Linked DNA regions of Homo sapiens. The protein of the gene in region 1 interacts with the protein of each later gene in a pairwise test. Each region holds a gene or a part of one and is shown in the gene's direction. Other genes may lie near its edges.

Evidence for each region.
Region 2: the proteins of ERLIN2 (region 1) and AMFR interact in binary tests that used the Homo sapiens proteins (3 or more experiments, as listed by UniProt).

Annotation. Positions count from the first base shown.
Region 1 is NC_000008.11:37,746,350-37,750,369, forward strand, and holds part of ERLIN2 (erlin-2), read left to right. Parts: exon of another isoform or gene 1-201; intron 202-204; exon of another isoform or gene 205-1,697; intron 1,698-3,209; coding exon 3,210-3,283; intron 3,284-3,444; coding exon 3,445-3,503; intron 3,504-4,020. UniProt on the Homo sapiens protein: Component of the ERLIN1/ERLIN2 complex which mediates the endoplasmic reticulum-associated degradation (ERAD) of inositol 1,4,5-trisphosphate receptors (IP3Rs) such as ITPR1.
Region 2 is NC_000016.10:56,360,952-56,363,748, reverse strand, and holds the end of AMFR (E3 ubiquitin-protein ligase AMFR), read left to right. Parts: intron 1-692; coding exon 693-840; 3' UTR 841-2,297; downstream 2,298-2,797. UniProt on the Homo sapiens protein: E3 ubiquitin-protein ligase that mediates the polyubiquitination of lysine and cysteine residues on target proteins, such as CD3D, CYP3A4, CFTR, INSIG1, SOAT2/ACAT2 and APOB for proteasomal degradation.

The DNA of each region.
Region 1 (4,020 bases):
ACCTGAAGAACCTCTTTGTGTGTACTTAGTAATACAACTTTTTTTCCTGTCCCAACACCTTTTAATACAGTTGAATGGATAAAAACATGGATACAAACACATGGATATAGTTATCACTGAAGCAGTGTGACATAAAATAATACCTATGTATACAACACTCCTCTGTAAATAGCAAATGTAAAGTAAAAGATACACAACAGATCATTTTGTTTATCTCACTATCATTTATTAATCTATAATGTATCCCTCCTATGTATCCATGCAAGGAAGCAATACTAGCTGCCCGACTAGAGGGCAGCTCCCTTGGGTTACTTATTCAGACCCCATTTTCATTCGGATCTGAGCTGTCTTACCCGCTCACTGCAACTTGGCTTTTCCTTCTTTGAGTATAAAGTCTGACATGGGATGGCTCACCTATAGCTTCAGTGTGTTAAGTAAAGAAAGCTTTATGCAGATTCTGGTTTTTAGTGGGTCTCCTCTGACAGTAGAAAGATTCAAACCACAACCAATTCCAAGAACCCTTCTAAGAACAGAGACAGAGTCACTTCAAAGGATCTGACTTGCTATACCTAAATATAATTCACGCTGCTTTTCTCTATGACGTACCATAATATTTTGTCCAAAAATCTTGAAACATGTTATTAACTTTGAAGAAAGAATAAAACCAGCCACTTTAGAGACCAGAGACACTCAAGCACTTATCTATTCATAAAGTTTCTACACAGCTGAAGAAGTTTGCATCAAATGGACAAAAAATAGTAAAGAAAATCTAAATACAGAAAAAAAATTAGAGAAAAATCCATCTCCTAGAAAGCAGGTCAAATGGACTCAGTTAAAGACCTCACTGCATGTAGGAGAATCAATGGGAAACAACATAAAGCCTTCTGCTGGGATATAAATAGGAACCAGTCTATGTAATCAAGAAGTTACTTTGTCTCCTGATCTAAATGCTTGCCTCCAGTCTAGGGCTCAGAAAAAAAGCCTGGTTATTTGAACTGGTTGTCAATCAAGGTCCCCTTCATTTTCACTTTCTTGGCTTCCCATTCAGCCAGCTCTTGCAGTGGCCTCTTGCTCATGCCTTTGCGCTCCAGCTGTTTTTCAATCACTTTGGCATTCTGTGCATACGAGTCAGCAACTTCCCTAGCCTCAATCTCCTCTTCCTCTTCATCAATGGTAGACACAGTGACAGAACTGAACTTGCCCATGTCTTTGGTCCGTTTGGTCATCATCACCTTCTTAGGAGGCTCTTGTTTCTGAGTATATATGTTCGTTTTCCCAAAGCCCTGGCCAAACTTGACGACTGCTCCATCCACAATGAAGGTAACGGGAGCATTCTTCGGCTGGGATTGGTAGAAGAGCAGCAGTCCACACTTTGCACATTTCTTTCTGTACTGTAGTTCAATGCCTTCAGGTCTCCGCAGATACATAGTCTCTTCGTCTTCTGTGTTACAAAACTTATGGGCATGTTTGGCAGCATCAATCACACGGGACCGGTCCCGGGGCCTCATGGGCAATTTCTCTAACTGACAGTCCAGCACTAGGACCACCTGGCCGCACAAACAGTAGTACACATGGAGGGGCTTCTCGCCGTCGTCATATTCCTCCCGGTCCCGAGTGTCAGAGCAGACTACTGACCGAGACACTACTTTCGGCATGGTTTCCAGGAGCAACCTGAAAAACTCTACGCAAAGAAGAGGGTCGCGCCGAAATGACGTCACGAGCGCGCCTTGCGCCTTTTCCCTGCGGCTACCTTAGTAATACAATTTAAATGGCATTTATCAACATTTCCATAACATATAAACATCAATATTACTAAAACAACTTGAAAAGTATTTCTTTCACATTTTTCCGGTAAGCTACTAGCCCAGGGCCACAGGTTTCCACCTTGACAGATATAATTTGGTCTGAGGAATGACGTTATTAACTTATGGAGGATACGGGCCATTTAAAGTTTGGTTGGTATTCTACTTAAAATTACTTAAAATATGAAATGTAATATTTAGTTCTAGTTGTTAAATTGGTTGACCCCTGGCAGGTGTGAGGTGCCGACTTGATGGCATTTCTCCTTCGGTGCTCAGAGGCTTGTGAGAGCACATCCTATATGTGGAAACGTTACCGTCCCTTGTTTACTGATACTACTGTCTTAAAATCCTAACAATCAAGGCCCACCAGTTAAACAAGCTTGTTATTTTTGCTACTAGCCAGCTTTCATGGGCCTCCGTTTTGGCATCAGTGAAAGAGCGGAGACTTTCTCTTCCTCAGAGGCTCTTATTTGAGCACAGGTGACCACGAAAGGACCACTTAAAGCAGATGGCGGCTGACAGCAAAGGAGAGATGCAGTGTACAAGTCCCAGCCTGATTTCACTCTGTCTTTTTCTCTAAGCCCCTCCGGGATCTTATCAAGGATATCATGGGCAGAAGGCAAGGAAGAGGATTCTAAAACCTGAGAAGCCCATGCCAGAGAAGTCAGCTTTGGTACTGCTGTTCTGAGATTGCAGCTGGAAAGGAAGGTGGGGGGAGAGTCAGTTACAGCTGTTCCTACATTTGTCTGTGAAACAACTCATGTGGATTCCAGACAAAGAAATCAGGACCAAAGCAAACAGCACATCAAAAGCCTGGGGCTCGCTTCCAGAACTGTAAATTTTAATTTTCCCTTTGTGTTGTTTGATGGAGTTCCTAATAGAAACAGTCTTCCTTGGGGCTCTCCTTGACGTCAAAGTCTGTTTTTCTTTTAGAAACTTCTAAAATTACTAGATTTAATGTGCTCAGCTCTTTCCACAAAACCTAAATAGCCATTCCACCTTCCTTCTTCTTGGAAACTGTGAACCTTCCTTCTCTTTTGCTGCTATTGTCTAGGGAAAGGCTGCTGCCTCACGCAAGAAATGTGCTAGAATTGTTTGTTCTTCCTTTTTTTTCTTTTTAAGCTCTCACCCCCTGTAGGGCATGGTTAGTATTTTCAGAACAAAGGTTGAGTTTTATCTTGAGGCACAGAAAGAAAATGCCCTTGCGTTCACCATGTAGAGGGCTGCCTGCACAGGCTGCTTCAGAAGTTGGGCAGGGGATCTTTAGATTTGTGGGCTTTGATAAGCACACTCCCTTGGGAAAGTACATTCTTGAGCTGGTGATTGAGCTTGCACTTTACCTCATCCTGCCCTCCCTCATCTAGAAAGTGTAACAACTCCTTTTTCTCCATCTTTTCTTTATTCCAGATCAGATTGATGAAAATCTCAAACTGGCTTTGCAACAGGACCTGACCTCCATGGCCCCTGGGCTGGTCATTCAAGTAAGCATTGCTGCATGGGAGCAGCCCCTCTCTCTCTGACACTGCTTCCCTTCTCCCAAGGGATGTCCTTTTTGTGCAGGAAGATCAAGGCCCAGTGGGAGCTGGGTGTGTCCCTCACTACCCTCACTTTCCCATCAGCTGCTGTTTTAATCTCTCTCCAGGCTGTGCGGGTAACAAAGCCCAACATACCAGAGGCAATCCGCAGAAACTACGAGTTGATGTGAGTATACCCTCCGCCTGGGCTGTGACCACCACTGCCTCCCACCTCCCACCTCGTCCCATCCCAGAGGTAACCAAAGCTGCCAGGCTTCTCGGTTATCCCCTTGCTGGAGGATTTGCTACAGCCCATTGCACTGTAAGATTGGGCAGGCGTGTCAGGGCCACCACTGGGGCTCCCTACCTGTGATTGAGAACCCCAGGATAATCCCTGTAGAGCAGCGATGTTTTGAAAAGGGCCAGGGGGCCTTGTTTGTGTTCAGTGACTCATGCCCAAGGTGGAGACAGGAGCAAGAGACCAGTAAGTGGACAGGCAGGTGTATTTTACTAAATTATGTTTTATTTCCCACAAATGAGTTACTTGGGAGGAGAAGAGCTATGTTACTGTCAACAACAGATCAGCTTTTACCTGGGCCATCGAACAGCCTTCCAGGAGGAGTAGGAAATGGGAGTTTGCCTCTCTTCAGCAGAAGAATTCGACTTACCTGGGGATAGTGAAGCTCCTGAGTTTTCCATAGCTG
Region 2 (2,797 bases), on another chromosome or scaffold:
CACTGGGCCCCACTGGTCTACCTCTGATGCTGGTACTGTCAGTCATCTCCCATGGACCCCTTTGGCCACGCTTGCCGAGAGAGCACTTGTGTGCTAACCTGATCTAAGCCCTTTATATGAATTACTTTAACAGCTCTAAGAGGGAGCACTGTTAACCCATTCAGCTGACATACAGCTGAAGAAATGGAGGCTGGAGAGGTTAGCACTGGCCTGGCCCTGGCGTCTGTCTCCCAGGTCCTCCCTGTTGACCACTCTGCCTTTCAGCTGAGCATTGTACACACACTCAGCGCATCTGTGCGTCACACACCCATGGTTGGTGGCAGCTACAGCAGGTGTGTCCTGTGGATAGAGGGGGTTTTGTTCCAGCTCTTAAGGACAGGGCCAGCACTGTGTTCCTCAAGTGGGTTTGGGCCCTGGCAGACCCTGTGATTGTGGGAGTTCTGTGCTGTGTCTGTGGGTGGAGGGGATGGGCAGGAAGAGACAGCAGGGAACAGCACTGAAGGGTTCCTCCCTGGTGCAGAGAGAATTTGCGCCCATCTGTTGGGGGCTGGATGTCTTGGTCATTGGGTGGTGCTGAGTGACAGCTTCATGAAGGTGCCTGGACATGGGGAGATGTGAAATCAACCTTCTGGCTGTGTTCCACAGCTCCCCATCTCTCCTATGAGAGAGAAAAAGTCTTCTGTTTTTTCTAGACGTTTCTTGAACAAAAGTTCTGAAGATGATGCGGCCTCAGAGAGCTTCCTCCCCTCGGAAGGTGCGTCCTCTGACCCCGTGACCCTGCGTCGAAGGATGCTGGCTGCCGCCGCGGAACGGAGGCTTCAGAAGCAGCAGACCTCCTAGCGCTCCCTTGCCTTCCTCAGCTGCCTCCTGCGCCCTGTGCCCGACTGACTGGAGGAGGCCTGTCCCAATTCTGCCCGCTCCATGGAAAAGCGGGCTTGACTGCATTGCCGCTGTATAAAGCATGTGGTCTTATAGTGTTTGGACAGCTGATAAATTTAATCCTTCTTTGTAATACTTTCTATGTGACATTTCTCTTCCCCTTAGAAACACTGCAAATTTTAACTGTAGGTATGATCTCTTCTGGTGTTGACTGGACTGCTTGGGGTGGGGGACGATCAGGAGGAAGTGAGCAGTCGCCTGCCTGCAGCAGGCAGCTTCTACTCCTGCCTCATGCGTACGTCCCACAAATGCAGGTGTCCTGAGCACCACACCCAGTGGGAAGAGTGTGGGGGAGGCGCACAGTGTGAGCCCGCCCCCACGTCGTGGGGTAACATCTGTTATCAAACTGCTGTCGTTGTTGTGGAAGCATGTAGACTGTGCCAGAGGCCAGACCCACGGGCTCATGCACCCCTGAGCCAGCAGGGCATCTTGGAAAAGGAACTCTTGGTTCGATACCTGGAGCAGAGGAGGGGAAAGTCCAGGGCTATAGGGTGTGATGAAGTCACCCCTTTCTGTCCCACTACATCTGGGACTGACTTTCCGAGCCTCCAGTCCAAAGCCGGCTTGATTTCCGTGAACTCTGGTGCTCCTGCATCTCATGAGTGTGCCCCATGGGTCCCCTCCCCTCTCAGCATTTCCTTGTCCCGTCTGGACCTGGGGAGTGGTTAGGCAGCAAGCTTTGGTTTATGGTTTTCATTCATTGGTGAAGTAAATTAGGCAGTGCTAAAGCCTGTGGGTTTGGTCCTTGAACAAGATGTGGGCCTTGCAAGATGGGAGAGTAAACCTTGAAGGGCTTTATTAAAGAAATAAAAAAGAACTTTTGTATCTTTTATCCTGGGAGCACTGCGTTTTCCTAGCTGTGTTATTCCTGGTTTAATTCAGCAGAGAAGGTAAGGTGTGAACCTACCTGCCTTGGAGAGGGCCCAGGTCCCAAATCTCTTCAAATTCTTCACATGTTTAACTTTAAGGATTTGAACCATGAAGTCATAGGTTACAGACCTCAGTTTTATGCCCCATTGGATTACTTTTTTTTTTTTTTTTTTTTTTTTTTTTTTTACTCTTTGAAAGCTTTGTTTTGTGGTAGTCCTTTTGGGAAGAATCCAGTATTATCCACAATTATTGGCAAAGTTTAAATGTATTTTACATAACGGAAAGTTTTTAGAATGTTGAAAAGTAATTGAAAAAGGTGATAGGTAAATTTTTAGGCAAAGATAATTTATTTCAATAAATCTTTCAAAAGCCTTACCTTGAAATGCTGTTAGTAAATTTCTGTGATTTTTTTTTTTAATTTGTTTTGCTGAGAGCATAGCTATTTGTTTTTATTGTAAAACAATAATAATAATAAAAAGCAAACTCTATTGGTGTGTTGTGTGTGGCTGGAAGCTAAGGCATGTTTTTGTGTGGCTGGAAGCTAAGGCATCTTTTTCCAGAGGTGCCAACGTTAAACCCCATTTTGATTTGGATTTTGTGTATACTATTTTGGTTGGAGGGTTTTTTCCCATGTTTTTGAATTGGGAACTTTTGTTTTTCCTAGTAGTGTATTTGGGGAAGGCAGAACTACATTTTTCTTCCCCTTGTATTTATATCTTTTTTTTTTTCAGGTAAGTGTGTAGCGAAAGATTATTTTACTGTCCTCGAATTACATTATACTTCACACGTTGCACCCATTGTAGGTGCCACTAATTCCACATGTTCACAGGTTTCTGATGTGTGAAAAGAGAAAATTACTTGGATCAATTTTAGAGGGTCTTGACACATTACAAAACAGCCATATCACAGTGTTTAGAGCAGGAGCTTATTAAGTAGCTTAAAATGATGCAAGAAGTGAAGTTCTCAGTCCGCCCTTCCATTTTACACC